Linked DNA regions of Homo sapiens. The protein of the gene in region 1 purifies or fractionates together with the protein of each later gene. This does not show direct contact. Each region holds a gene or a part of one and is shown on either strand. Other genes may lie near its edges.

Evidence for each region.
Region 2: the proteins of PI4K2A (region 1) and CCNYL1 purify together in Homo sapiens (affinity purification with mass spectrometry; one large-scale study listed by BioGRID and IntAct). This does not show direct contact.
Region 3: the proteins of PI4K2A (region 1) and GNAO1 purify together in Homo sapiens (affinity purification with mass spectrometry; one large-scale study listed by BioGRID and IntAct). This does not show direct contact.
Region 4: the proteins of PI4K2A (region 1) and PIGA purify together in Homo sapiens (affinity purification with mass spectrometry; one large-scale study listed by BioGRID and IntAct). This does not show direct contact.
Region 5: the proteins of PI4K2A (region 1) and RHBDD1 purify together in Homo sapiens (affinity purification with mass spectrometry; one large-scale study listed by BioGRID and IntAct). This does not show direct contact.
Region 6: the proteins of PI4K2A (region 1) and ALG12 purify together in Homo sapiens (affinity purification with mass spectrometry; one large-scale study listed by BioGRID and IntAct). This does not show direct contact.

What each region holds. Positions count from the first base shown.
Region 1 is NC_000010.11:97,645,158-97,650,721, forward strand, and holds part of PI4K2A (phosphatidylinositol 4-kinase type 2-alpha), read left to right. Parts: intron 1-5,564. UniProt on the Homo sapiens protein: Membrane-bound phosphatidylinositol-4 kinase (PI4-kinase) that catalyzes the phosphorylation of phosphatidylinositol (PI) to phosphatidylinositol 4-phosphate (PI4P), a lipid that plays important roles in endocytosis, Golgi function, protein sorting and membrane trafficking and is required for prolonged survival of neurons.
Region 2 is NC_000002.12:207,738,352-207,743,915, reverse strand, and holds part of CCNYL1 (cyclin-Y-like protein 1), read right to left. Parts: intron 3,262-5,564; coding exon 3,210-3,261; intron 1,694-3,209; coding exon 1,574-1,693; intron 1-1,573. UniProt on the Homo sapiens protein: Key regulator of Wnt signaling implicated in various biological processes including male fertility, embryonic neurogenesis and cortex development. Activates the cyclin-dependent kinase CDK16, and promotes sperm maturation.
Region 3 is NC_000016.10:56,348,489-56,351,988, reverse strand, and holds part of GNAO1 (guanine nucleotide-binding protein G(o) subunit alpha), read right to left. Parts: intron 606-3,500; coding exon 452-605; intron 1-451. UniProt on the Homo sapiens protein: Guanine nucleotide-binding proteins (G proteins) function as transducers downstream of G protein-coupled receptors (GPCRs) in numerous signaling cascades.
Region 4 is NC_000023.11:15,325,465-15,330,839, reverse strand, and holds part of PIGA (phosphatidylinositol N-acetylglucosaminyltransferase subunit A), read left to right. Parts: intron 1-192; exon of another isoform or gene 193-2,526; coding exon of another isoform or gene 2,527-2,619; intron 2,620-4,793; coding exon 4,794-4,926; intron 4,927-5,375. UniProt on the Homo sapiens protein: Catalytic subunit of the glycosylphosphatidylinositol-N-acetylglucosaminyltransferase (GPI-GnT) complex that catalyzes the transfer of N-acetylglucosamine from UDP-N-acetylglucosamine to phosphatidylinositol and participates in the first step of GPI biosynthesis.
Region 5 is NC_000002.12:226,841,517-226,847,080, forward strand, and holds part of RHBDD1 (rhomboid-related protein 4), read left to right. Parts: intron 1-5,564. UniProt on the Homo sapiens protein: Intramembrane-cleaving serine protease that cleaves single transmembrane or multi-pass membrane proteins in the hydrophobic plane of the membrane, luminal loops and juxtamembrane regions.
Region 6 is NC_000022.11:49,900,493-49,906,056, reverse strand, and holds part of ALG12 (dol-P-Man:Man(7)GlcNAc(2)-PP-Dol alpha-1,6-mannosyltransferase), read left to right. Parts: intron 1-1,550; coding exon 1,551-1,720; intron 1,721-1,802; coding exon 1,803-1,878; intron 1,879-1,990; coding exon 1,991-2,219; 3' UTR 2,220-5,564. UniProt on the Homo sapiens protein: Mannosyltransferase that operates in the biosynthetic pathway of dolichol-linked oligosaccharides, the glycan precursors employed in protein asparagine (N)-glycosylation.

The DNA.
Region 1 (5,564 bases):
TGACTCACTAGGTTAAGAGGATTAAATGACATATCACACATGAAAGCCCTGACGTAGTTCCTGGCACTTAGTTGGGGCAGCTCAATCAGATTTTTAAAAACATTCCTACTAACTGCTTAATTAGGGTTCTTGGGGTACATGGTATCGAATAAGGCTATAAGAGTTGGTAGATGGGGCGCAGTGGTTCACGCCTGTAATCCCAGCACTTTGGGAGGCTGAAGCGGGCGGATCACAAGGTCAGGAGATAGAGACCATCCTGGTTAACATGGTGAAACCCCATCTCTACTAGAAATACAAAAAATTAGCCGGGCGTGGTGGCGGGCACCTGTAGTCCCAGCTACTCGGGAGGCTGAGGTAGGAGAATGGCGTGAACCCGGGAGGCGGAGCTTGCAGTGAGCCAAGATCGTGCCACTGCTCTCCAGCCTGGGCGAGACAGCAAGACTCTATCTCAAAAAAAAAAAAAAAAAAAAGTTGGTAGATGATGCTTAAAATCTCGAGACCTACATGTATGACAAACTTGACTGCCTCTTAACGTTTTAGTAAAATAATTTTATTATATTTTATTATATATATATTTTTGAGACAGTTTCTCACCCTGTCGCCCAGGCTGGAGTGCAGTGGCACAACCTTGGCTCATTGCAGCCTTGGCCTCCCAGTGTTGGGATTACAGGTGTGAGCCACTGTGCCTGGATGGTTTTATATATTTCAACAAGCCCTTCCCTTCCTTTTGTAAGAATGAACTTGTAAATAAGGCTTCTCTACCTAAATAGCTAAATCAAGGACTACTATTTTCCTCCAACCTATACCATAGAATACAGCAGTTCTTAGAGTGTGGCCCAGGGATCTTGACCTCTGGGAGTTCCTTTTTGGGGTCCACAGGTCAAAATTATTTTCATCATAATTCTAAGACTTTATTTGCCTTTTTCATTCTCATTTACTTAGGAGTGGAGAGTGGAGATTTCCAGAGACTACATGATGTGTGATATTGAAACAGATTGAATACTAAGATATGAGATATAGCCTTTACCCACATTAACAAATGCTTTTTGGAGTCCTTAATAATTTTTTTTTTTTTTTTTGAGATGGAGCCTCACTCTGTCGCTCAGGCTAGATCAGGCATGATCTCGACTCACTGCAACCTCTGCCTCCTGGGTTCAAGCAATTCTCCTGCTTCAGCCTCCCAAGTAGCTGGGATTACAGGTGCGCCCACCACCATGCCCGGCTAATTTTCGTATTTTTAGTAGAGACAGGATTTCAGCATGTTGGCCAGGGTGGTCTCAAACTCCTGATCTCAGGTGATCCACCCGCTTTGGCCTCCCAAAGTACTGGGATTACAGGCATGAGCCACCACACCCAGCCTAATTTTTAAGAGTTTAAACTTTTTGAGACCAAAACGTTTGAGAACTATCCACTTAATGTTTATGAAACTTTAAAAGAAGACTTTTATAAAAGGTAATTTCTGTATATTTCACTGTGCGATGTGAATGATATGCTTGAACTGTCTTACATTTTAGGTTCTTGGAGAAAGGACCTCTTTTAGCATAGCATGACACCCTCCTCCTTGTCATTGCTGATTAGATATAGGAACCCCGCTGGGTTCCAGGTTCCAGTAATTTTTTGTTGTTGTTTGTTTTGAGAGGGGGGTCTAGCTCTGTTGCCCAGGCTGGAGTGCAGTGGTGTGATCTTGGCTCACTGCAACTTCCACCTCCTGGGTTCAAGCGATTCTCCCGCCTCAGCCTCCTGAGTAGCTGGTACTACAGGTGCATGCCACCATGCCCGGCTAATTTTTTCTATTTTTTTTTTTTGTAGAGATGGGGTTTCACCATGTTGGCCAGGCTGGTCTTGAACTCCTGACCTCAAATGATCCACCTGCCTTGGCCTCCCAAGTGCTGGGATTATAAGTGTGAGCCACTGCGCTGGGCTCAGGTTCCAGTAATTGGTTGTGGGTTCTGACACCAGCTGGTGCATGGCCTCTTGCTTTCTTGTGTGATTTGGTTTTTATTCCCAACTTCATGGACTGCTACTGCTTAAGCTATCTGTACCTCACCCCTCCTTTGTTAAAAGGGGAGATTAGTAAATGGGTGTTAAGAAAAGTTGTTTTTATAATATTGGCATCAAACTGAAGCTCTCTCCTAGATATAATAAAGGAATTGAAAATCTATTAAGAGAAAAAAAACACAAAATATTAAAGAAGAGAGTGGATGGTGAGGAAAAATTAGGCAGTAGTCATTTTCTTTTCCAGCTAAATACTGGTGGGTGTCTTTCCAATTTGAGTGGTTTTAGAGTTTGTTCTCCATGAATGAGAAGAGTATTCTTGATTATTCAGTAGCATAGTTGATTTTATGAAGTGAACATTGGAAATTAGGCCAGAGGGTATTTTACCTCTCTGTCTAGGAAAGCCACCAAATGCCTGCAGAATGCTTGCACATCGTTCTCCACAGGCTAGGTCCTGAGCAAATGCTAACATAATTGAATTGAACTGAGGCTTACACTTAGTCCTGAAAGGCACTTGTCTCCCCTTCTGTCTGAATGCCCTTTTGTTCCTCCATTCTTCATACTCTAACATTCCCTCATTGATCTAGTCCAGGCAGTATTCTTTAATAAAACCCCTGTACTATTGCATAACCATAATTACTCATGCTTTTGGAGTCATTGAAATGCTTCTTATTCTCCTTATGGTAGAAGGAAATCAAGATGTTTGAGAGGTCAGTCTTTAAATGACACTTGACTGCAATCTTGGCCTTCAAGTTCTGCTTGCTTTTTTTTTGTTGTTGTTGTTTAATTTTTCTTTTTTAGAGATGGGGTCTTGCTCTGTCACCCAGGCTACAGTGCAGTGGCATGCTTCTAGCTCACTGCAGCCTTGATCTCCTAGGCACAAGGGATTCTCCCCGCCGAGTAGCTGGGACTACAGGTGCATACCACCACACTTAGCTAATTTTTTTTTTTTTTTTTTTTGAGATGCTATTTCGCTCATTGCCCAGGCTGGAGTGCAATGGCATGATCTCGGCTCACTGCGACCTCCACCTCCCAGGTTCAAGCGATTCTCCTGCCTCGCCTCCCGAGTAGCTGGGACTACAGGCATGTGCCACCATGCCTGGCTAATTTTGTATTTTTAGTAGAGATGGGGTTTCTCCATGTTGGTCAGGCTGGTCTCGAACTCCTGACCTCAGGTGATCCACCCTCCTTGGCCTCCCAAAGTGCTGGGATTACAGGCATGATTCCCGGCTAATTTTTAAAAATTAGTGACAGAGTCTTGTGGTATTGCCCAAACTGGTCTCAAACTCCAGGCCTCAGGCAATCCTGCCTCATCCTCTGAAAGTGCTGGGCTTATAGGCATGAGCCACCATGCCCAACTTTTTCTGTCTTTAAGTAGAAGTATTTACCAGTTGACCTCAGCCCTGGTATTTTTCAGCCCCCAGTAGTAGTAGGAGTGTCTTGGCCTCCTTTTCATTGAGGACCAGCTTACTGAACTCCATAATGTGCCTCAGTTGAACTGACTGTTGCGTTCTGGGACATGCTTCAAGTTGCCTTTTGGTTTCCCTGTCCAGGGTCCGGAGGGTTACAGTGGACTCGTCAGTCATTCTCTGAGTTGTGAGCCTGTTGCTACTGCTGCTTTGTTATTCAGAGGCTGGGGTTCCAGGGGAGCAGAGACAGAGAAGACTGCTGAGGACTCTAGCTAGCTGCTTTGCATAAGAAAGTAATTCTGAAGACTTATGATGTGAATATATGCATTTTGCATTTGCCAGTAAATAAGTTAGTTTGTCTTTAAGAATAAATTGATTCTTTTTGGAGGGAGAAGGAGGAGTTCTGTATTTTTCTTGTCCTCTCAAATCCTTGGAAGGCATTTTTAAAGGAGCTGGCTTCAAGATCGACCAGTTATTGTTAGCGACATGGACCTAGCTAGTTCCTAATATGAGTACTGAGTTGGTAAAAGCAGATGGGTGTATGTTGTCTGCTGTGACCTGCCATTCAGGAAGTGACACCCACAGAAAAATATCTTATGACCCAGACTAGCTTGAGTAGGCTGTGGGGTGAGGGGACAAGGAGAGTCATATGATATGAGGATGAATCACTTGGATAGCATATTTGCTTTTTTCCTTTGAATTACCAGTTTGGGGACTGGAGGGAATTAGATGAATGTAAAACAACCTCAGAGGGCTGACTGGCCTGTTGAAGAAAACACTCAGGAGGGAGGGCCATAGTTTCTAGGCATCCCATATTTCCAAAGACCTTAGAAGATTAAGTTACTGTCTGCTATAGAAGATGGATTTAATCTGTGTGGCATCTCATGTCCTGGTTTCTTGCCTATCAGAATTACTTAAGAGAGCTTCATTCTAACCAAGTAGCAGAGTCTTTTTCCTGCTGTGATTTTTCTCTTTGGATAATAAGGCTGCGAGAGGAAATCTCTTCATCATTGATGAAGGAATTTCCTTAACCTCATTCCATAATAGATTTTTTTTTTTTTTTTTTTTTTTTTTTTTTTGAGGCAGAGGCTTGGTCTTGTCACCCAGGCTGGAGTGCAGTGGCGTGATCTCAGCTCACTGCAACCTCCGCCTCCTGAGTTCAAGTGATTCTCCTGCCTCAGCCTCCCGGGTAGCTGGGATTACAGGTGCATGCCACCATGCCCAGCTAATTTTTGTATTTTTAGTAGAGACAGGGTTTCACCATGTTGGCCAGGCTGGTCTCGAACTCTTGACCTCAGGTTATCTGCCCACCTTGGCCTCCCAAAGTGCTGGGATTACAAGCGTAAGCCACCATGCCCGGCCCATAATACCTTCTTTACTTCCTTCCAGTTGGTAAAGTTTTTAGTCTTTCTGTAATTGGTGCAGAACAACAGTGTGCATAATGTAACTTCGGAAATTAGAGTTTATGATGTTAAATTTCTGGCATACCACATACAGAAAGATCCCGTAGGATAAATAGGGCAGGGGTGCATGCAAAAAAAGAGAACATATAACCTGTGATAAGTTAATTCCTCATTTTTTTGGGGGAAAGATTACTTTAGAGCCCTCGATATGTGCATTAGGATATTGTATCTTTCTGGAGGGCAGGAAGCAGTACCATATTGGCATTAGATGCTGCCAGTGACTCACGATCTACCACTGAATTGGCTTCTGTACCTTTTTTTTTTTTTTTTGTGAGACAGGGTCTCGTTTGGTCGCCCAGGGTGAGGAATGCAGTGTGGGCAATCTAGGCTCACTGCAACCTCCGCCCCATGGGTTCAAGTGATTCTCATGCCTCAGCCTCTGAAGTAACTGGAATTACAGGTGTGCACCACCGCGCCCAGCTACTTTTTGTATTTTTAGTAGAGACAGGGTTTCGCCATGTTGGCCAGGCTGGTCTCAAACTCCTGGCCTCAAATTATCCACCCGCCTTGGCCTCCCAAAGTGCTGGGATTACAGGCATGAACCCTTGTACCTGGCCTGCTTCTGTGTCTTGCTCCTAGAAATGTAGCAATCCATTTACCTTGTTTGTTTGAAGCACAAAGTTAGAGGTAGGTACTTATATGAGGGAAAAGAGATGGAGAAGAGGGAAAAAGGAGCAAGGAAGAAAGAGAAGACTTA
Region 2 (5,564 bases), on another chromosome or scaffold:
CAGGATCACCTGAGGTCAGTTCTGAGACCAGCCTGGGCAACATAGCTAGACTCTAGTTCTACTAAAAAATTAAAACAAAACAAAACAAAAACAAAAACAAAAACAAAAAACAAGAATAGTGGCACAGAGTAGGCACCCAGTGAATATTTACAGAATCAGAAACTTCTTGGCAGCATTTAACACTGGGACCATAGCCTCTCTTATCTTGATCTCTGTTCTTTTATTACCTTCTCCTGGGTTTCCTCCTTCCACTCCATCTGGGAGCTTGTCCCTCAAAAATGCTAACAGTCTTTAGAGATCTATCTTCTATCCACTTTCTTTTCTTTTTTTAGAGATGGGGGTCTTGCTATGTTGCCCAAGCTGGACTCAAACTACTGCACTCAAGTGATCCTCCCACCTCAGCCTCCCCAGCAACAGGGACTACAGGTGTGCACTACCATGCCTAGCTTCTCCACTTTCATTCTGCAACCTTTCTCTGTATTTGAACAGCTACTATAACTCTTCATTCCTTACCTCTAAGCTCAGATTCATGCTCCAGTCCGGTACATTCAAATGATTATTGGACACTGTCACTGCTACCTCACAGGCACATAGAGCTTAAACCATCTAAAATGAACTCCCCTCTTCCTGTACAGCTTCCTCTCCTGTATCACCTGTCTCTCTACATCTGGAAGCACCACTCCTGCTTCTCTACAGTATGTGCTAAGTGTTCCAAATGGCTTACAGCTCCATGAAAAGGCCTAAGTCTGATCCAGTACCCACTGAGGGGCTTCTATTCAAGTGCACAGAAGCCTTCTCTCCTAAATTCCAATTGGATGCTAAAGGAGTAGGTACTGACCTAAGTATTCTTTCCCTCCAGGCCATGCAGTTGACCTTCCTCTATAGGTTTGCTGTGGGGAGGAGTAAAACAATCCTAACCACTTGAATAGGATTTATTATTCAATGATAAAATCTTACCATAGGAATTCTGTATGGAGGACATAAAGTTAAGGACACAGCTATAGCTTAGTAAGCTAATCAGCAAAGCCTTTGTCCAAGTATTGCTGGTACCACATTGCTGGGCAACATCACGAGCAGGCACAAGAGGTAGGCAGAGATGATTAAAACCCATCATCCAAGGAACAAAGAATTTAGGGCAATAGTTCTCAATCACCACACATATCGGAAATACCTGGGGAATAGAGCCTGGGACTTGGCTTAGACCTACACTGGAATCAGTATCTGGCTCTGAACCACATGGTTTTGTTACCACTCCCCATCACCCCCAGCCCTGCCACCATGCCTTGTATGTGTACACACTGAATGTGTACATGTGCATTGATGGGTAGGGGGAGAAACCAGAAATCTCCCCGGCTGCCTTTTGTAGCAACTGTTCTGTGATGAGAAAAGCAATGGAAACATGTTCAACCATAATGATGATTAAACGCGAATGTACGTATTTATGTTCCTTTCATAGGTTTCTCTTAAAGTTCTGATGATAATTTCAGGAACCTATTTTTATTTGAAAAATAGGACCATACCCTGTGTACAAGACTAATTTCTAAAGACACTTTATAAATGAGAAATATCTTACCAAAGTTACTATTGCACATTCAGCTGTTAGCTGTGCAGCACTAAAAAGAGTACGAACAAATCTGTAAATAAATTTGTGCTCAGGATCATGCTTAAAGTATTCCTCTGGAACTTTTTCTCGCTGAAAGAAGAAAAGATGCAATGTTAGTATCCACTGAAGAAAAAAATTTTAAGCTTTTTTTTTTTTTTTTTGAGACTGAGTTTCACTCTTACTGCCCAGGCTGGAGTGCAATGGCATGATCTTGGCTCACTGCAACCTCTACCCCCCGGGTTTAAGTGATTCTCCTGCCTCAGCCTCCTGAGTAGCTAGGATTACAGGCACCCGCCACCACGCCCAGCTAGTTTTTGTATTTTTAGTAGAGACGGGGTTTCAACATGTTGGTCAGGCTGGTCTCAAACTCCTGACCTCAGGCAATCCACCTGCCTTGGCCTCCCAAAGTGCTGGGATTACACGCGTGAGACACCACGCCCGGCCTAAGTACTTTTTTTTTTTTTTTTGAGACCCAGTCTTGCTCTGTCGCCCAGGCTGGAATGCAGTGGCACAATCTCGGCTCACTGCAACCTCCACCTCCCAGGTTCAAGTGATTCTCCTGCCTCAGCCTCCTGAGTAGCTGGGATTACAGGCGTGCACCAACATGTCCGGCTAATTTTTTGTATTTTTAACAGAGGCAGGGTTTCACCATGCTGGCCAGGCTGGTCTCAAACTCCTGACCTCATGATCTGCCCACCTCGGCCTCCCAAAGAGCTGGGATTACAGGGGTGAGCCACCATGCCCAGCTGGCCTAAGTACTCCTAAGACCAGCAGTGTTGACGTTTGAGCCCATGTACCCCTTAAAATAATTCTGGTTGAGTGACATGACTTTTAGTTTTTAAAATATAAACAATTGGATCTTAAAATATCATAGTGATTCAATACTCATCACCATTTATCATTAAGGAAAAATACAGGCACAACTCAGAAAATTTTTATGTTCCTTTCCACTTTCTATCCACAGAATTCTATCAAAATGTAAACTACTTGTAGGCTCGAAAGTCTTACTAATCATATGTTAGGATTCTCTTAAATACACTTTGAAAAATTTTTTTTTTTTGAGATGGAGTCTCACTGTCGCCCAGGCTGGAGTGCAGTGGAGCGATCTTGGCTCACTGCAAGCTCCGCCTTCCACGTTCACGCCATTCTCCTGCCTCAGCCTCCCAAGTAGCTGGGACTACAGGCGCCTGCCACCGTGCCCGGCTAATTTTTTGTATTTTTAGTAGAGACGGGGTTTCACTGTGTTAGCCAGGATGGTCTTGATCTCCTGACCTCGTGATCCGCCTGCCTCGGCCTCCCAAAGTGCTGAGATTACAGGCATGAGCCACCGTGCCCGGCCTGAAAAAATATCTTTAGTTTCCTGTAACCATAAGGCTCAAAGGCTTCACTGTCCAAGACAATAGTCATTAGCCACGAGCGGCTATCATATACCTGAGGAAGTGAATTTTTAAATGTTTACACCATTTTAATTGATTTAAATTTAAATTGTTTTCTAATTATCTTCATAGAGATCATGTATATTTGTTAGGACTATTTATAAATATCAGCATGAAATAAACACAACTCTATGAGAGAAAAATACTACCTCAAAAAAAGTGACACTTACTGTAAGTGGATGTGATCTCTCATCAAAAATATCCAGGGATCTATTTGCATCTCTATAAAATAAGAATATGCATTGAAGAAGTTAATTCAGGAATTGTTAATATCTGAGTAAAATGTCTGCTGGGGGTGGCGGGAGATGCCTCCTGTTTGCTTTGGTGTTTGCTTCACCAAAGCAAAGAGTTGTACAAATTCTTCTCCGGGATGCCAGCCTTCAGAGGATTTCCTGACCTCTTTTTACTCAGCATATGAGGTTCTGTACTGTGAGGTCTTTTCTACAATGACGATTCAGAATTGCCTTTAAGTATTGGCCCTCCCTAACAGGCAATGGTAATAAAGTATATTTTCACTCTTCTAACCCCTCATTGGAACTCAAGAACGTTTTACACAGCAGTAGTGGTGGGCAATAAACTCTTTAGAACTTTAATGACTGTGAATGAAATTCAGATTTCCCAGGCTTTTCCTTTCTAGTTCTCCGTATTACATTCTTGACATGTATTTGTTTAAGTAGTTTGATGAGTTAAAAACCTTATTGTCTTTTTATTTTAAAAGAGACAAGGCTTTGATAATCTTTACAAGTTTATAAAACTAATACATTGTGCTCATTTAATAAAACCAGTGGTTCTCCAAGTGTGGTCTGTGGACTTCTGGAGACCCTCTAGATCCTTTTCCAAGAGGTCCTTGAGGTCAAAACTGTTCTTTTAAGAATACTTATTCAACCTGAGAAAGCTGATTGAAAATTTAGAAATAAAAATAATTTAAAAAAAAAGAATACTAAGGTATTGCTTGCTTTTTGACTGTATGACATTTGTAATGAGTGTATAACAGCAAAAGTGGGCAAACTGCTGGCTTCTCAGCATGAATCAAGGCAGTGCTACCAAATTATACTAGAAGTTATGCTACTCTTTACTGCCTCTTGCAGTTTAAGAAAAACACCTGCTTCACTCATGAATATCCTTGCTGAAGCAGTAAAAATTAATGGTATTATTAAATCTTGACCTTTCTTTTCACTATTCTGGAGTAAGCAGAAAGTTCACATAAAGTAATTCTGCATACCGAGGTAGAGTTGTGTTAAGGAAAAGCACTTGTGATTTAATTGTGAGCTAAACAAGCCATTTTTTTTTCACAGAATATCATTTTTACTTGAAAGTACAAATGTCATTCTCAAAAATGAAAGAAGTGGCCAGGTGTGGTGGCTCATGCCTATAATCCCAGCACCTTGGGAGGCTGAGGCGGGTGGATCACTTGAGGTCAGGAGTTCGAGACCAGCCTGGCCAACAGGGTGAAACCCCATCTCTACTAATACAAAAATTAGCCAGGCATGGTGACAGGCGCCCGCAGTCCCGGCTACTCAGGAGGCTGAGGCAGGAGAATCACTTGAACCCGGAAGGCAGAGGTTACAGTGAGCGAAGATGGCACCAGTGCCCTCCAGCCTGGGCAACAGAGTGAGACTCAGTCTCAAAAGATAAATAAATAAAAAGTTTTAAAAAAATGAAGCCTGTCACTTCAAGAAAATAACACTATTTGTTGCAATGATAAAATTCAAGCTTTCAAACTAAAAATCAGGATTTGGAGAAACTTGTACCTTATTATGTGAGTTTAACAGCTTCTCAATACTTAAAGATTTTTTAATACAATTGGTGGTGATACTAACAAAAGTGAGCTTTGCCACTGTCAAGAAATGTGAACCAGGCTGGGTATGGTGGCTCACGCCTGTAATCCTAGCACTTTGGGAGGCTGAGGTGTGCGGATTGCTTGAGCTCAGGAATTCAAGACCAGCCTGGGCAACATGGTGAAACACTGTCTCTACTAAAAATACAAAAAATTAGCTGGTATGGTGGTATGTATTTGTAATCTCAGCTACTTGGGAGGTTGAGACAGGAGAATCGCTTGAACCCGGGAGGCGGAGGTTGCAGTGAGCTGAGACTGCACCACTGCACTCCAGCCTGGGTGATGGAATGAGACTCTGTCTCAAAAAAAAGAAAAAAAAAAGAAAGAAGAGATGTGAACCAATATTTTCCATATAACCAATGCATAATATTAGAAAACCAAGTAAGGGGAAATGATACATATATTGTACAAGACAGATGGGTGAGTACTAATAAAAAATTCATTGATAACACAAAATTCCACTGTAACCATTTTAAGAAACTAGCACTTGTGGAGTGTTGGGTAGTATTAAAGAATACTGGCCGGGTATGGTGGCTCATGCCTGTAATCCCAGCACTTTGGGAGGCTGAGGCGGGTGGATCACCTGAGGTCGGGAGTTCAAGACCAGCCTGGTCAACATGGCAAAACTCCATCTCTACTAAAAATACAAAAATTAGCCAGGCGTGGTGGCATGCGCCTGTAACCCCAC
Region 3 (3,500 bases), on another chromosome or scaffold:
GGTGGGGCCAAGAGGCAGTCCAGGCCCTGTTCACAGGCCACGTGTCCACTTTTCGGTTTCATGCAAAGGTGCTGTGGGGCTCTGGGCAGGGGTGAGGGGAGGCCACTGCTGAGATTACAGGAGGCTGTCCTGAGACCTCTTCTAGAGGGTGACCAGGAGGAAGGGGGAAGCCTGTGATCCTGTCCTGCCCCCTGCTCCCCACCACTCCTGAGTCACTTGGTCCTAACACATATATCTTAGGAGGGGCCATTTCCACCACGCTGAGGGCTGTGTCCTGGGAAGCCCAAACCTGGTGGCACAGCACTGTTTTTCTTTTGCGCCCCACCAGTCTCCTGCAATGGGTCCCGCTCGCCAGCTAGCCCCAGCAGTGCTGGCCGAGCAGCCTGTTCTCTGAGCCATGGGTCCCTGTCAGGGGCAGGCTTCCCCCTGCACAGGACTGCCTGGCACCCACCTGTGTATTCAGGAAAGCAGATGGTCAAAGGTGACTTCTTGATCTTCTCGCCAAAGAGATCTTTCTTGTTGAGGAAGAGAATGATGGAGGTATCGATGAAGAACTTGTTGTTACAGATGGAGTCGAAGAGCATGAGAGACTCGTGCATGCGGTTCTGCGGCCGCAGGAAGGGAGGAGAGAGGACAGACAGCGGGAGGGAGACACAGAGACAGGGAAAGAGAAGGAGAGAATTAGGCTTGACAGAGAGGGACTGGGCTACTCGGCAGCTCCTCCGAGAGGCTGCCAGATGGAACCTGAGTCAGTTACACCTCACAGCACATCTCATTCCCTGCTTCCGGAGAACCCGTCATGTCGGGGCCAGAGGCAGAGACTGGACTGGACACCAGCCATGGCTCTCTGGGGAGGCTGAGGACAGGGTGACCCGGGCTCTCCCCACTGCAGAGTTCCCAGCTATGTGAGGGTCTCCCAGCACACGTGTGTGTGGCTGTGTGCATGTGCCTGTGTGTGTGTGCATGCACCTGTTATGTGTGCCTGTGTGTGTTCGTGTGCATGTGTGCCTATGTGTGTGCACCTGTGTGTGCATGCCTGTGTGCATCCATGTGCTTGAGTGTGTGTGCGTGCCTGTGTGTGTGCCTGTGTGTGTGGGCGTTGGGGGAGTCTGGACCGGAGCCGGAGAGCTGGGCTTTGGCCCTTCCTGCCTAGACCTCTCCTCCTGGGCCCATCCTGGGTAGGGGGATGTTCTCTGGGAGTGGTGAGAGACTCCGGGCCCTTCCTATGGTCTCAGGGGAAGGCATGCCAGGTCCTGCCAGCATCCTGGGTGCCACCACTCAGGGGAGAGGCTCCTGGCAGGGCCACCTCCAGGAGCACCTGGGGGACTGGCCACACCTCCTCTGGCTGGGTCCTACTCAGCTGCATCTGACACTGCATGATGTTCTAAGCAAGGCAGATGTGGAGGGCTGCCCTGCACACAGGAGCCTGTTTAGCAAATGGATGAACGTGATGGGCGCCCCACAGATGCCGAACGGGGGCAGCCTCTTGCCCTGGGCAAAAACTCTGCTTTGGGGCGCTGAGCTCATTCACTTGGGCAGAGTCTGTCTCTCAGCAGCACAGAGGGCATCTTTCTCTGTGAACGAATCCATTTCTGCACAGGGAGTGGGAGGAAGGGACAGTTTCCCTTATTTTCCCCAAGAACCCTGTCCTAGCCCTGGGAACTTGCTCACTGTAAACCCAGCTCTCTGGATCTAAAGCCCAGAGGTGAACCAGGCTAAACTCTACCTCTGAAATAAGAAGAGTGACACAAGTAACAAGAAAAAGAAGACAGCTGGTGTAGATGCCACTGGGCATCTACGGGGAGATGACCTCCTCCCCCAGGGGTGAGCACACCGTGGGTGCTGAGGAATTGCTGGTCCCACTGCCACACCGCCCCCCTCTGAGCAGAAGGAGGGCAATGAAGATGAAGTGACCACACCAGTCACTGAGGCCCACACTGTGCCAGCGCTCTCCCTGCCCATGTCACTTAACCTCATCTGGCCTGAGGGGACACCGCGGTGACACAGCTGGGCCAGATCCAGAACTTATGCAATGGGTCTCTCCAGTCCATATCAGCAGGCTGTGGGGCTTTCGAGGAATCGATACTAACAGCAGCATGGCGGGCTCCGTGCGTCTTACGGCCAGTCCTCCCTTCAGTATCTCCCCCGTGCCTACATCATTCTACCATGACCTGTAGAGGCGGCCAGCCCCAGCCCCTGGTTCCTATTAGCTGAAGTTGGTCGGCGGAGGGCAGCGTTCTCAGCTGCCTCTCAGGGGCACCTGGACAGCTGGCATGGCGTTATTCCCCACCCCCCAGGAGCTGTAGTACACGGCACTGCCCTTTCATTCTGCTAAACAGATTCAGTAAACTCATATGATCTCATCACTCTCCTATCCTCAATCAGTAAATTTCATTCTGATTCCCCAGGAGCATTTCCCTGTCATCTGTGTGATCCCTCCGGGGAGGAGCAGGTCTCGCTTGCCCTGAGCCACCTCACTGGGATCTGTTCAGAAAAGGGCAGCCGGAGGCTTCTGGGAGGCCCAGTGAACCTGTGTCCAGGGCCTCGGGCTGTCCACACTCAAGCTCATTGAGCCACATTATGAGGCCAGAGTGGTGAGGCTCTGAGACCCCAAGGATTCCACAGGAACATGCTCCCCACTCCACAGAGCCACCTTGGCCTGCAGCTGCCTAACAGAGAGCTGGAAACCCACAGCCAGAGCCAAGCTCCCTCCTCCACTGCACATCTTCCCAGGCACTGCCAGGAGCAGCCACTAGAGTGACCTGAGCTGGGAGTGGGGACTGTGCCCCCTTGGCCACTGAGCTTAGGTGTGGAGGAGAAATCAAGTCCGGCTCATTTAGGCTCCACAGTTCCACTGGTTAAGGCTGAGCCCCCGCCACAGCCCCTACATCTCAGGGCCACAGAGCACGACTCACACCACACTCGCTCCTCCAGTCAGTACTGCCTGGCATCTGTGTGCAGGGCTCTCTGCTGGGCTGCCCCGAGGATGTAAGAATGACCACATCAGGCTCCTGCTCTCCGAGAGCTCAGAGTCCAGCTGGAGAAAGATGATCACAGTCTGTGGTCCCAGGAGTGGCAGTGCAGGGGAGGACTTGGGGAGCAGAGGACAGGCATAACCAAACCTGGTTTTATGGGGAGAGGGCCTTGGAGGGAGCCCCAAAAGGCGGCTGATCCTGGAGACTCGGGGAGGGCAGTGAGGAGGGGAGATCCTGCAGGGCAGGGGAGGCGCCGGCACTGAGACCCCTGCCAGCCCCCCAGGCCTGACTGCCCTCCCTCGGCACGCTGCCTGGAACCCATTGCCAAGGAGCTGAGAGCACAGCTCATCCTTACAAGCTCCCCAGAGGAAGCAGACGCCGGGGTACATTCAAAGAAGAGATACCACCATTTGAGAAAAGAGAAAGAAGTCAGAGATCATAGATGGCTGACAGCCAACCCCCTAGACCTCCACCTGCCCCAGGCTGCAGTGGAGGCCCAGGAGCAGCAGGAAGCAGTGCCAGCGC
Region 4 (5,375 bases), on another chromosome or scaffold:
ACGGGGTCAGGAGGTTGAGACCATCCTGGCTAACATGGTGAAACCCTGTCTCAACTAAAAATACAAAAAATTAGCTGGGCATGGTGGCAGGCTCCTGTAGTCCCAGCTACTCCGGAGGCTGAGGCAGGAGAATGGCATGAACCTGGGAGGCGGAGCTTGCAGTGAGCAGAGATCGTGCCACTGCACTCCAGCCTGGGCGACATAACGAGACTCCGTCTCTAAAGAAAAAAAAAAGAAGTAAAGGGCAGAGCTCACAGATGGCTTTTTTCTTCTGATTGCCAAAGTAATGTCTTTTCATTGCAGATATTTTGGAAACTAAGAAAAGCACAAAGATGAAAACTAAAATCAGCTGTAACTGTATTATTCAGAGATACCCTAATGAGTATTTTGATTTATAGCTTTCCTGTCTTTTTTATGTGTACGTACATATACTGAAAATCAGTGGGCTTGCTCTGCACGTTACTGTATTGTAGCTTGCTTGTTTCATTTCATCATGTATAAGACATTAGTAACATATTGGCAGGTAAGTGATGAAGAAAAGGGGATTAGATGTCCTGGGATCAGATGATGGGTCTGTCCTGCTGTGTGATCGAGGACAAGTAGCTTAACATCTCTAAGTCTCAGTTTTTTCATTTGTGTAATGTAAGCAACATTGGGAACCTCGCAAGGGTTCAGTGATAGTTCCTATAAACTATTAGCCTAGTTTGTAACTGTCCACTATTATCAAGGAGGTTTTTGGGTTTTTTTTTTTTGAGACGGAGTCTCGCACTGTCACCCCCCGGGCTGGAGTGCAGTGACGTGATCTCAGCTCACTGCAACCTCTGCCTCCCAGGTTCAAGCGATTCTCCTGCCTCAGCCTCCCAAGTAGCTGGGATTACAGGCGCCCACCACCAAGCCCAGCTAATTTTTTGTATTTTTAGTAGAGACAAGGTTTCACTATGTTGGCCAGGCTGGTCTCAAACTCCTGACCTCGTGATCCACCTGCCCCGGCCTCCCAAAATGCTGGGATTAACAGGCGTGAGCCACTGCACCTGGCCAAGGAGGCTGTTTTTTGTACCTCTACAGCACTTAATGGACACTGCAGTTGAATGTGTGGAGGCTTGTTTACTAAAAGTCTGACACAGTCTGGTTATAAAAAACAGTGTCTTCTGAGTGCTATTTGAAAACCTGTCCACTAATCAAAAGTGTCATTTATAGTAGGGAATCATTAAAAAAAATACATAAATACATACCCCCTTAAATAGTTAATATTTGAATTAAACTCAAAATATTAATACACACTGAGTTGCCCGTAGTTTGATGTAGGATTGCAGGCTTTGAGTGCTGGGCCACTGGTTTCAGCTGCATCTTGCACACCCTCCTTCATAAAACATAATCTACCATTGCTACTTTGAGTTTCTTTTGGGTGGGGTCAGAACTTAAAGGCGTATGAACTGATATGCTTCAGGAGTTTTAATTTGTTTTCAATTTTATACAGTAGTTTAGGACACCCCTCATCTGCCAAGAACTTTTTTCTGTGACATTCCTTTATTGGATTTTTCAAACTGTTCAGCTTAGTTTTTGTGGATACTCTTTTTGTCAGTTTATATGATAATTAAATTACTCAACACGACGATAACAAGTACAACTGACATCAAACAGATGTGTGAACAAACAATTGATTCTTGACAAGCACTGAATTCAGTGGTGTGCCAGTGTGCTAGGGAGTGGCCTAAAATCTAGATGTGGGCCTTGGTCAGTTTACGTTTGGAATGGAGAATCTTGATTGACCCAGCAGTCCATTTAAGTGGAGGTTGGCAAGGAAACTTGGCCTGAACTTCATTTTCTGGTTTGAAGGCAATGACATGCTTTCATTCTTTAATCAGGAACATGTGAACCGACTGGCATTCTGTATTCTGAATTCCTCCTGGGACATTAGTGATGTGTTTTTTTGTAACTTAGGAATTGTACCTAATTTATTTTTTAACCAAATAGCATATCTTCTTGAGATGGCTAGCTGAGAAAGAGTATGACACAAGTGTGATCAAGGATCAGCAAAATTAACTACCCATGCAAAGATTAAACCTGTTACCTTTACTTCCCTAATGTGGTATTTTAACTAGCTGAGCTAACCACCAATGGAGTGATGGTATGGCCTTTCCTGTACTCAATTCAGTAATTGAACAGTTATTTATCGAACCCTCTCCAGATGCCAGGCACCCTGCAGAAAGTAACATTCTGAAAAGGAACAGCCATGCCTGTAGCCCAAAAGTGAGTAGTTGTATTAATGGTCCATTCCTTATTAACAAATTAATTTCCTCAGGAGTTTATTGGACCAGATATCAAAGTCCCACTGGAATGTCTTAAGTGAGAGAGAGGATAAATCAAAGTTTTCCTTATCCAGGCTTTTTGGATGTCTTTTTCCTGAGCCTCCTCTTCCAAGCCTGTTTTGCTCTCAGTCAGGATTTACCAGCACTCTGCATGTGTAGGCACGCTCACCTGCTTCCTTCTGTAGTGGTAATGACAACCTACATTTGTATTCTGCAGTTGATAAAGCCTGTTCGTGGTACAATACCTCATTTGACCCTCCCAACAACTGTAGGGTAGATGTTATCTACATGAAATTGAGTCTCAGAGAGGGTAAGTAACTCACCCAGGTTACACAGTAAGTAACAGAGATGACACACGAGTTCAGCTTTTCTGGAGCTAAGTTCTCCTCTTCCTCCACCCATGCCCAGCCACTCATATCCTAGGTGTAGATCAGAAGGTTCTTAAAAATATTGTTAGACTGAGCTTTAAAAGCAGTTTGGATCAGAGATTTTCATTGTCTGTTTTGTGTTCACATGGCAGTCGAAAGTCTCTAGGTTCCATTGCATTATACCCTTCTTAGAGGCTCCAGAATAAATTTTTTTATAGTGGTGGGGAAAAGCCCTTATTCTTAGAATAAGAATATAGATCATTGGTAATAGTAATCAGTTCCATTTCTTATGAGATACTTGTCAGGATTAAATGACATAATGAATTTAAAGTATATTGCCTGTCATAGCAAGCACTCTGTTACTGTTAGCTATTATCATTTATGACTATTGCTCTATGTTGTTTTTTGTTTGTTTGAAGAATGGGCTCTTAACCTTGTACGAGAAAGAAAAGGGTGAGGAAGAAAATGGATTGAAGGAATTGTAGGAGACTAAATGTTAAAAGTCATTAAACTACCTTCTGGTTTATCTAGAAATCCAATTGAGTGATTTGTTAGTAGACATGAAACAAAGATAGCTATGATTTTAATGAGAAGCCTTCATATTCAGAAAAGCTGCGTGGGAATTTTTGATACATACAATAACAGTTTGAAAGTACTAGCAGAGTTTACTTAATGAATTCTACTTTGTATTATTTAATAAAAATGACCCTATAATATATATGTCATTTCTCCTATTTTATATCTGATATAAAATATCATCTATTTTATAACTGATCTGCCTATTTGGGGTGGAAGATTAAGAAATACAATTCTTATGTGTGTGTGCATTTTTAAAATTAATAAACTTAGCTCTAGGTGGATTATTTTATATTTACTTTTACTTTTTTTTTGTTTTTTTTTTTTTGAGACGGAGTCTCGCTCTGTCTCCCAGGCTGGAGTGCAGTGGCGCAATCTCGGCTCACTGCAAACTCCGCCTCCCGGGTTCACGCCATTCTCCTGCCTCAGCCTCCGGAGTAGCTGGGACTACAGGCGCCCGCCACTACGCCCGGCTAATTTTTTGTATTTTTAGTAGAGACGGGGTTTCACCATGTTAGCCAGGATGGTCTCAATTTCCTGACCTTGTGATCCGCCTGCCTTGGCCTCCCGAAATGCTGGGATTACTGGGATTACAGGCGTGAGCCACCGCGCCCTGCCTACTCTTACTTTTGAATATGTACGTTTTGTAATTGTTAATGAACTAGATTCTTAAATAGTGTTGACATTGTTGGGACTTTGGATAGCCACTCACTTTTTCAGACTAATAGGGCATAATTTACTTTATTGTTTTCTATTACCTGAGATTGTGTTTATATATTATAAGAAAATCATTTTGGAGAAAAAAGGAGCCAAGATGCATCCTTTTGTTCTATGGACTGTAGTGATCTAACAGTTGATGCCCTGCTGCCTTCATTTACCCTCATTCCAGGAAAGTGGGCTATAGCTGGTTTGAACTTAAATTTTGCGATAATGTAGTGTTCACTGCAAAATTCTCTGTACCAGCCACATTTTAAACAAAGTGGAGGCAGCAGTTAGATTTCGTTGCTTAGCCTTTTCCTGTGGCAGTAAGTGGGATCACAGACTGATAGAATTTTATAGCTGAAAGAGACTTTAGGTACATAGGTATCTTTATTTTATAGATCTTGAAACTTCCCCACGATCAATGGGCTTGCTGGTTAAAAAAGCTGGGAAAAGACCCAGATCTCCAATCAGCTGCCTGCTCTGGAGAAAACGAACTCAAACCTTAGCCACCTTAAATATACCTTTTTTAGAAGTACGCAATGTATAAACACAAGTGAATAACTTAAAGAATAGTCTGTTGAGATGAAACAGAATAGTCCATATTTTGGGTGTGTGGAAGGTAATGCATGTCAAGGTCTACGTCTTCAAGAATTGTAACTCTTGGGGGACCACTGCCAGTTTGCAAACAATTCCACTCCTGGAAAAGGTTTAAGAGAGTTTCTCTCCTTTATGGAGTGCATAGCTAATACTTTTCAAAATAAGTGGATTCTCAGTCGTTCTGGTGAATTTTTTTAAGTTTAAATATTAATATCTCCAACATTCAACTTTATATTTTCAGGGATCGATTTGCTTAGTGGTATAATACCTGAACTCTGTCAGAAATATCCAGATTTAAATTTCATAATTGGAGGAGAGGGACCAAAGAGAATCATTTTGGAAGAAGTTCGGGAAAGATACCAGCTGCATGACAGGTATTGATGAATTTCATGTTGTCTTGAGGGAGAAGATGTCAATTATCTCTATTTGGTTTTAACTGCATGCGTACCTTAGGTGTGTTGCTTCTCCTGCATGTAATTGATATACATATAATTGATATAAATCTAATGCAAGGACTGTTTTCAAAATTTTTATATAAATAGGAAACCTAGTTAATTCACTATTTTTTCCATTAGCCCAATATTATTTGACTTTGGGGGGCCATTGTTGGAGGCACCATGAAAGGCACAAAAAACAGCTGCTTTAACTGGAAGCGTTTGCAGATTTCCAGGCCATACTGTGTAGTGATTTAAGTAATAGGGCTCAAATCATGTAAATTGCTCTGCACATACAGATTTGGACAAGTCTCTTCCTCAGTAACTTACACAACACAAGGCTTGTACGTGTAAAGCATCAATTTTAATAAAAAGGCCATTTTCCTGTT
Region 5 (5,564 bases), on another chromosome or scaffold:
ATCATTTAGCTCCCAGTTATAAGTGAGAACATGCAGTGTTTGGTTTTCTGTTCCCATGTCAGTTTGCTGAGGATAATGGCTTCTAGCTTTATCCATGTCCCTGCAAAGGACATGATTTCATTCCTTTGTGTGGCTGCATAATATTTCATATGTACCACATCTTCTTTATCCATCTATCATTGATGGGCATTTAGGTCAATTCCATGTTTTTGCTATTGTGAATAGTGCCACATTTAACATATGCATGCATGTATCTTTATAATAGAATGATTTCTATTCCTTTGGGTATATACCCAGTAATGGCAATGCTGGGTCTAATGGTATTTCTACCTCTAGGTCTTTGAGGAATCGCCAGTCTGTCTTACACAGTGGTTGAACTAACTTATACTTCCACCAACAGTGTAGTAGCATTCTGTTTTCCCTGCAACCTCGCCAGCATGTGTTGTTTTTTGACTTTTTAATAATAGCCATTCTGACTGGCATGAGATAGTATCTCATTGTGGTTTTGATTTGCATTTCTCTAATGATCAGTGATGTTGAGCTTTTTTTCATATGTTTCATGGCTGCATGTATGTTTTCTTTTGAGAAGTGTCTGTTCATGTCCTTTGCCCACTTTTTAATGGGGTTGTTTTTTTCTCCTAAATTTAAGTTCCTTGTAGACTGTGGATATTAAACCTTTGTCAGATGGATAGACTGTAAAAATTTTCTCCCATTCTGTAGGTTGTCTGTTCACTCTAATGATAGTCTCTTTTGCTGTGCAGAAGCTCTTTAGTTTAATCAGGTCCCATTTGTCAATTTTTGCTTTTGTTGCAATTGCTTTTGGTGTTTTCATCATGAAATCTTTGCCCATACCTATGTCCTGAATGGTATTACCTAGATTTTCTTCTAGGATTTTTATAGTTTTGGGTTTGACATTTAAGTCTTTAATTCATTGTGAGTTAATTTTTGTATGTAATATAAGGGGTCTAGTTTCAGTTTTCTGCATATGGCTACCCATTTCTCCCAGCACCATTTATTAAATAGGGAATCCTTTCTCTATTTCTTGTTTTGGCCAGGTTTGTCAAAGATCAAGTTGTTGTAGTTGTGTGGTCTCGTTTCTGAGTTCTCTATTTTGTTCCATCTGTCTATGTATCTGTTCTTGTACCAGTACCATGCTGTTTTCGTTACTGTAGCCTTTTAGTATAGTTTGAAGTCTGGTAGTGTGATGCCTCCAACTTTGTTCTTTTTGCTAAGAATTGTTTTGGCTACTTGGGCTCTTTTTGATTCCATAAAATAGTTTTATCTAAATCTGCGAACAATGTCAATGAAAGTTTAATGGGAATAGCATTAAATCTATAAATTACTTTGGGCAGTATGGCCGTTTTCATGATATTGATTCTCTCTGTTCATGAGCATGGAATGTTTTTCCATTTGTGTCCTCTCTAATTTCTTTGAACAGTGGTTTGTAGTTCTCCTTGAAGAGGTCTTTCACTTCCCTTGTTGGCGGTATTCCTAGGTATTTTATTCTTTTTGTAGCAGTTGTGAATGGGAGTTCATTTATGATTTGGCTTTCTGCTTGCCGGTGTTGGTGTATAGGAATGCTAGCAATTTTTGCACATTGATTTTGTATCCTGAGACTTTGCTGAAGTTGCTTATCAGCTTAAGAAGCTTTTGGGCTGACACAATGGGGTTTTCTAGATATAGGATCATGTCATCTGCAAACAGATAATTTCACTTCCTCTCTTCCTATTTGAATACACTTTATTTCTTTCTCTTGCCTGATTGCACTGGCCAGAACTTCCAATACTGTGTTGAATAGGAGTGGTGGGAGAGGGCATCCTTGTCTTGTGCTGGTTTTCAAGGGGAATGCTTCTAGCTTTTGCCCATTCAATATGATATTGGCTGTGGGTTTGTCATATATGGCTCTTATTATTTTGAGGTAAGTGCCTTTAATCCCTAGTTTATTGAGAGTTTTTAACATGAAGGGATGTTGAATTTTATCGAAGGCCTTTTCTGCATCAGTTGAGATACTCATGTGGTTTTTGTCTTTAGTTCTGCTTATGTGATGAATCACATTTATTAATTTGTATATGTTGAACCAACCTGGCACCCCGGGATGAAGCCAACTTGATCGTGGTAGATAAGTTTTTTGATGTGCTGGTGGATGCAGTTTGCCAGTATTTTGTTGAGGATTTTTGCCTTGAGGTTCATCAAGGATATTGGCCTGAATTTTTCTTTTTGTTGTTGTATCTCTTGCCAGGTTTTGGTATCAGCATAATGCTGGCTTCATAGAAGGAGTTGGGGAGGAGTCATTCCTTTTCAATTGTTTGGAATAGTTTCAGCAGGAATGATACCTGCTCTTCTTTGTACCCTGGTAGATAGAATTCAGCTGTGAATCCATCTGGTCCTGGGCTTTTTTTGGTTGGTAGGCTATTTGTTACTGTCTCAATTTCAGAACTCATTTATTAGTCTATTCAGGGATTCAATTTCTTCCTGGTTCAGTCTTGGGAGGGTGTATGAGTCCAGGAATTTAGCCATTTCTTCTAGATTTTCTGGTTTATGTGCATAAAGGTCAGCAGCTAAGTGAGCTCTTGAGGTTTGGGGAGACTTGGTAGATCTGGAAAACTCTTCAAATTAATGCTGTGAGAACCAGCTTCAAAAGTTGTTGGTCACATAGTTTCTCAGCACAACTTTTAAATTCCAGGGAAATAGTTATTATTCCAACTTTGGTCACTATCACCTTGGATCAGTATTGGAAATGGCACCCTTGATTGATAGCTGCCCCCCGCCCCCCGGCCCCTTGCCAAAGACCGCATCCAATGGGAGTGGGAGACAGATTCCTGTTACTGAAAGAATGAAGTATTGATGCTATGCAGGCAAAAAGCCCTAAGCTGTTCCCTATCACTTAATAATTTGTGGACATCCCATGTGGTTTGTGGTAATATAACATATATTTGAAGCATGGCATGCTTTTCCCCCTTTTCACTAGTTGTTGTGCAGGGAAGACTTGAGTTACATAAATAATTCACAAACACTTCTTACACAGATTAATTTAAATGAGAGCAGGGAGTGGTGGTAGCTCTCATTTTTTCATTGACTTTAGGTAGACAAAGAAATCTGGTGCAGAGTAAACCTGAATATGGAACTACTTAAATCCTGTTGAAGGAGCGATCATGGGACGCTGGCATTGCTGTTCCCTGTGTGCCTCCTGGTTTAAAAACCTAGGTCTGAAGGGCTGTCAGTTGGAGAACTTTAATGAGCCCTCATTACACTAAACCGTGTGGTTTATGAGAGAAGAAACTGGCTTATGATTGATACTGGAAATCATAAATGGTGATGGGTCAGAATTGGAGTTGGCACTAATTCACCTAGCAGTGGAGCAAAATTTAAGATTATATACAAAATCTGGTAATTTCATTTTTTAGCCATTATTTTTTATGTATAAATATAGTCTAATCATTTTCATTTATACTATATAACACTTTTAAAAGGTGGAGAAAGAATTTTGCCAGCTGATGCTGACATTTTTTTTTTCTTCCTAAAATGGAGGCTTATTAAATTCTCAAATCATCAGATAATCTTGACAGAGATCCTGGTTTGAGATTTTACATAAAGTTTATTTTAATGAAAAACATAATTTCTGCTTTCAGGTTTCTTCTCTATATTTGTTATACTTTTTAAAAAATGCATGTGTAATTTAATCACACTATGCAGTTTTAAAATGTAGGGTCACAGAAAGTCATGGAAAATGCTAATTAGTTACTATGTTATCACAAAAACATTTTAAAACTATTTTAAGTCTGATTTGTCACAATTTGTGATTTTGTGTAATAAATATATATACATATATAATCCCATTTAATCCTTGTGAAACCAAATGAGCCTATGTTATCTTTTACAAGTGAAACTCTGAAGGTTAACTTTCCTAAGAGCACGTGGCTGGTGTATCGTAGAGCCAAGGACCATGCCCTTAACTGCTGTCCTATGCTGCATATGTTAATATTGCCACCCTTGTATATAATTTTGGCAAAAAGCACTGGGACATTTCTTTTCCCAAAGCCCATCTCTTTACTTTCAGTTCCCTGACAACTTCTTTATATTCTGAAACTGTTAAAATGTGTTGTATTATCCATCATCTTGTGCTTCTGTTTGTTGGGAATGTGGCAACAGCTCCTGTATTGCAGCAGTGTGCCCTGTGAAGCCATTTGTTCTTTATGTCTTAGAGCAGCCTGACAGCCTTTCGTGTTAAATTCAGCAAGATTGCTTTTCATTTAACAAAGCTGAATGTTGCTTTCTAGGTGAAAAATAATTAAATGCTTTTAAAGATATATTTGATTAACAGGAAGCTGATCTGTGTAAATTAATTATAACCATAATGATGTCATAGCCTTGTCTTTTGTTATTAGCCAGGTAATTGACCAGAAGTTTAGAAGCTTATTGTAACTGACAGTTAGTAGTTTGACCTTGTGTGCTGTCTGAAAGTGAAACATGCACAATGAATGTAAATGCAATTTGTTCATTGAGCTGCATGTGCTGTCAGAACATCTGATCTTGGGTTCTTGTTTTTATTTTTCCATTATTTCTTTGTTGAAATTGGTGGTCAGGATTATATACTCACAGTGAATATTATATGTATTTATCTTACTAAAAGCATCTGGCCAAACGCAGTGTTGCTTGTGTCCTGGAATAACTATAATCAGACTTGAAACCTTGGCACATTTAAGACATGCAGTCAAATAAACAAATGCCAAAATTAAATGAATCTCATTTTTAAAGTTTGTATGAAGGATAGTAAAACAACTTTTGGTAGAGAAATCAGAAAAGGAAAAATAGGGGCATATTTGATAGAGAATTTATCCCCTCTAATTCTGATTTTTCTGAGAAAATTAAAAGCATTTGGTATTTTGAATATTTGAGTAATGAAAACTTCCAGCTTTTGTAGGTTTGATTAAAGAATGGAAGTGTAGGCCGCGTACAGTGTCTCACGCCTGTAATCCCAGCACTTTGGGAGGCTGAGGCAGGTGGATCACCTCAGGTCAGGAGTTAAAGACCAGCCTGGCCAACATGGTGAAACCTTGTCTCTACTAAAACTGCAAAAATTAACCAGGCATGGTGGCGGGTGCCTGTAGTCCCAGCTACTCAGGAGGCTGAGGCAGGAGAATTGCTTGAACCCGGGAGTGATTCAGCTCAGCAGTGAGCTGAAATCGTGCCATTGCACTCCAGCCTGGGCAACAAGATTGAAATGCCATCTCAAAAAAAAAAAAAAAAAAGGAAATGTAAGAGTAAAACATGGAGAACATGGAGTAGAAGTGGGATAATAATGAATGACAATCAGCCATTATTAAATGGTTAAAAAATATGTAAGTACTATATATGTAAGTAAATGTGGCATTTTACCTTCAAAAGTCCTGACCTTTGCTTGTGGAAGTAGTTGTCAGAATTGCAGCTTATGAATTTTTGTCAAGTAGTGGAAGGAGGGTTTTGTCAAGTAGTGAATGGAAAGTTGTTAACTGCACATGTGGATAGGTATAGCTCATAATGTACTCTGTGAACTGGGGTAACTGATAGATGTTTGAAATGTATAA
Region 6 (5,564 bases), on another chromosome or scaffold:
AAGTCAGGTCCTCAGCCCGGCCACCCTGGGAGCAAGAGCAGGCCGTTTCCCACGGTGTCAGGGCCCAGGGCCTTGAGACAGTCCTGGGGGTGGAAGGTTTCTGATTGCGAGCTTTCCACAGTGACTGCCCACTCCAGGTTTGGGCGGGAACAAAGGACGAACGCCCTGGCAGTGCTGAGCTCTTTGGGGCAGGCACTTAGGAGGCTGCGGTCATCCTAGGTGGGGCCTCGAGCTCAGAAACCGCACCAGAGATTGTTCAAGGGTGCACTAGTCTGCTCTCGCACTGATGTAAAGAAACACCTGAGACTGGATAATTTATAAAGAGGAGGCTTCATTGGCTCGCGGTTCCGCAGGCTGTACGGGAAGCGTGGTACTGGTGTCTGCTCAGCTTCCAGGCTGGCCTGGGAAAACTTTCCATTATGGCGGAAGGCGAGAGGGAAGCGGGCACGCTTTTATGTGGCCAAAGCAGGACGAAGAGGGACGGGGGAGGTGTCACCCATTTTCAAACAAGCAGACCTCTCGAGAACTCACTCGGTATGAGGAGAACAGCATGGAGGGGATGGCGCTAATCCATTCCTGAGGGCTCCACCTCCATGACCCAGTCACCTCCCACCAGGCCCCACCTCCAGCATTGGGGATCACAGTTGGACATGAGATTTGGTGGGGACGCAGATCCAAACCATAGCAAAGGGCAGGGCCTGTGGAGAAGAGGGCTCCGAGGAGCCTGGTGGGTTTGGAAGAGAGTGAGTCTTGATCGGGGGTTCAGGGCGTTTAGACCAGGGTTGGCAAGCTTTTCCGTTAAGGACCAGCTAATAAAGAGCCTCATCTTCGTGGGCCACACTGTCTGTGGCAGCTGCTAACTCTGCCGTAGGATCCTGAGATTGGCATAGTCGATTGTGAGAGAACCGGCGGCACCCTGTCCCAGAGAGTTCACTCAGACCTGCTGGGAGTGGGCTTGGCCGCGCGGGTGGCACTCTGACCTACACAGTCACTTGGGATTGTTTGAAAATATATTTTTAGGCTGGGCGCAGTGGCTCATGCCTGTAATCTCAGCACTTTGGGAGGCTGAGGCGGGCAGATCACGAGGTCAGGAGTTCAAGACTAGCCTGGCCAACATAGTGAAAGCCTGTCTCTACTAAAAATACAGAAATTAGATGGGCATGGTGGCGTGCACCTGTAGTCCCAGCTACTTGGGAGGCTGAGGCAGGAGAATCACTTGAACCCAGGAGGCGGAGGTTGCAGTGAGCCGAGATCATGGCACTGCACTCCAGCCTGGGTGACACAGCGAGACTCTGTCTCAAAAATATATATATATTTTAAAATCTCATCTAAATTTTAAATTGGCATCTTGGGTAGAATTTCACAGACAATTCTTGAGGCAGTATCTTAACCACTTTTACGGGTTACTGACTCTGTTTTATTTGGTGGTGAACTCTTTGTTATGACTTGGTGAAGTTGAACAGCAGGTTATGCTCCTAGTATGTTTTGTAGGTAGATTAATTTTATTGTCATTACGTTCTGCCTATGATGTGTAACCATTCTTTTTTCAGGCTGAATAACTATAAAAAGTCTTGGCTGTACAAAGCGGGGTCTCTGCTTGTGATCGGACACCTCGTGGTGAATGCCGCCTACTCAGCCACGGCCCTGTATGTGTCCCATTTCAACTACCCAGGTGGCGTCGCAATGCAGAGGCTGCACCAGCTGGTGCCCCCCCAGACAGGTGGGTGCTGGGGGCACTGCCTGGGGACTGCTGTGGCTCCGACTGCAGGGCTGGGCTCTGACGGCAGGCCTGGTTTTCCTAGACGTCCTTCTGCACATTGACGTGGCAGCCGCCCAGACAGGTGTGTCTCGGTTTCTCCAAGTCAACAGCGCCTGGAGGTAGGATCCACACACAGCACGGCCCTCCCAGAGGCCATGTGAGGGCCCCTTGGGGGCGGGGGACAGGGCGATGTGGGGGCCCTGGGCAGGACCACCAGCTCTCATCCCACAGGTACGACAAGAGGGAGGATGTGCAGCCGGGGACAGGCATGCTGGCATACACACACATCCTCATGGAGGCGGCCCCTGGGCTCCTGGCCCTCTACAGGGACACACACCGGGTCCTGGCCAGCGTCGTGGGGACCACAGGTGTGAGTCTGAACCTGACCCAACTGCCCCCCTTCAACGTCCACCTGCAGACAAAGCTGGTGCTTCTGGAGAGGCTCCCCCGGCCGTCCTGAGGGGGACCAGGCAGCCCTCAGCAGCCACAGGCCTTCCAGGAGCTGTTATCACTACCAGTTTCTGGCACAATTCCAGCACAATTATGACAATTCAGAGAAGCAAGTCAAAGGACTGGGCACCTGCCTCTGACAGACACCAGACCAGGTCCAGGGCCTCCTCCACAGCCTCAGCTGGGGCTCTCAGCACCAAAGAACGAGGGGCCCAGGTCTTGTTGGCACCCCGGGAGCCACTGCCCAGGGTGATGGTGGCCAGCTCAGGGCTTCCTGCGGGTGACTGTCGCCCAGACCAGGTGCCATTCATGACTAATCAGGAGCAGCGGGCTCACCCAGGCACCTGTCTGCCAGGAGGCCACGTGTGTCCTGCCCACCCAGGGGGAGCTGTATTTTGGCAGCACCCCACGCTTGCTGCCCGAGGGCCTCTTGGGGCACCTAAGACAGCACCCCCTCTCAGGGGAGACCATGGTGGCCCCGGCCGCACCCCCCCACCCTGGTGCCACCACTGCAACTTTTGTATTCACAGGCATCCCATCTCCATCACAGATAAAATCTTAGGAGATAAACACATTCAAAAAGGAATGAGATAAAAAGAATAAGGCAATAAATGTTGATTGGAACCTCTCAAGATTACAGAAAATAATGAGAATGAAATTTTAAAAATGTTTCCTATGTGATAGCTTATCACAGGTGACTATTCCAGGTGTTATGGTAAAGGGACAGCTTGGTGCTGTCAGCCTCACTGACCATGCATTTATAAAGCACCAAAGTGCGTGTGATGCTGCTGGGCACTGGAGATGGGACCAGGTGCTGCTGCACACGTATGCACACACCATGCATACATGCACACACACCACACACGCATGCACACAGTGCACACGTGCACACACCATGCATACACACCACACACCGTGCACACGTGCACACACCATGCATACACACCACACACAGTGCACACGTGCACATTACCATGCATCCACACACAGTGCACACGTGCACACACTATGCATACACAGTGCACACGTGCACACACCATGCATACACACCACACACCGTGCACACGTGCACACACCATGCATACACACCACACACAGTGCACACGTGCACATTACCATGCATCCACACACAGTGCACACGTGCACACACTATGCATACACAGTGCACACGTGCACACACCATGCATACACACCACACAGTGCACACGTGCACATTACCATGCATACACAGTGCACACGTGCACACACCATGCATACACACCACACACAGTGCACACGTGCACATTACCATGCATACACACAGTGCACGCGTGCACATTACCATGCATACACAGTGCACATGTGCACACACCATGCATACACACCACACAGTGCACACGTGCACACACCATGCATACACAGTGCACACGTGCACACACCATGCATACACAGTGCACATGTGCACACACCATGCATACACACCACACACCGTGCACACGTGCACACACCATGCATACACACCACACACAGTGCACACGTGCACATTACCATGCATCCACACACAGTGCACACGTGCACACTATGCATACAGTGCACACATGCACACACCATGCATACACAGTGCACACGTGCACACACCATGCATACACACCACACAGTGCACATGTGCACACACCATGCATACACACCACACACAGTGCACACGTGCACACACCATGCATACACACCACACACAGTGCACACGTGCACATTACCATGCATACACAGTGCACACGTGCACACACCATGCATGCACACCACACACAGTGCACACGTGTACGTTACCATGCATACACACAGTGCACGCGTGCACATTACCATGCATACACAGTGCACACGTGCACACACCATGCATACACACCACACACAGTGCACACGTGCACATTACCGTGCATACACACAGTGCATGCGTGCACATTACCATGCATACACACAGTGCACACGTGCACACACCATGAATACACACCACACACAGTGCACACGTGCACACACCATGCATACACACAGTGCACACGTGCACACACCATGCATACATACCACACACAGTGCACACGTGCACATTACCATGCATACACCACGCATGCACAATGCACGTGCACACCATGCATACACACCACACATGCATCCACACACAATGCACAGATGCGCACACCATGCATACACACCATACATGCATGATCACACGTGCACACACCATACATACCCACCACGCATGCACACACACAATGCACAGGTGCACACACCATGCATACACACCACACAATGCAATCGTGCACACACAATGCACACGTGCACACACCATGCATACACACCACACAATGCAATCATGCACACAATGCACACGTGCACACACCATGCATACATACCACACATGCACACACGTGTGCATAAAGACATGATTTCTTCCTGTGCTCTTTGAGAGCTTGTGGCTGTTGCCCAGGTGCCCTGGGGCTGCCTCTCCACCTGATGCCTCCTGGTTTTCCCATTGCGTCTGGCGAACATCTGTGCAGACACTTCCTGACTCCCACAGAGGCCAGATGGTGAGGGCTGGAGAGCAGGCTTCCTGGCCCCAGCATCCCACAGACATGGGCTCCCTCCCCCATCCATCCACCTGTGTGTCTCAGGTATTCACTGGTTATCCACGCTCGTTTGTTCTCTTTTATCGCTGGCCACATGTGGATTGCCTCCCGACTTCAGTGGTCTGTGAGTCACTCCTGTCTTTAATTATCCTGGTGTTCAAAGTGTACGAGATTTGCTGGCGGGAACCCTGCCATGCTCTGCCTGTGTGCCGTGCCTCTCCTTCGAGCACCTCCTCATGACCAGGCATGGCAGGGCGTCCTCTTGGGCCTCTGGCCTCGGCCATTGCTCTGTGGGTCTTGGCTCCCTTTGGTGGGGAACAGCGTTAGAGACCGGGATCTAGACACGAGGTGTGCTCGATGCCACGGGGTGCCTGAGCTTTAGGCCCTTTCTGTGGACAGGCTAGGGAGGACAGGCATGCTGCGTGCAGTTGCACACGTACATATGTAATATGTGTGTACAGATCTGAAACAGCACAGAACCGTGCCTGGATTCCGTCCCACCTTGCACGGTTCTCCCCCACCCCCCATCTCCACCCTGAGGACCCTGGCCCCCAGCAACAGCAGCATCCTCACGCATCTGCTAGGGAGTCCAGTGCACGCCTGCTCGAGAGCTCCAGTGCAGCTTTGCCACAGGATTGCAAAAACAAACCCACCATGAAGAGGTCGGGATTGTGTGCAGTTCACTCCCTGCCCACAACTGCGGGTGCCGTCAAGCACTGTGCTCATGAGTTCCTTGGGTCGGCTTCTCCACCGTCAGT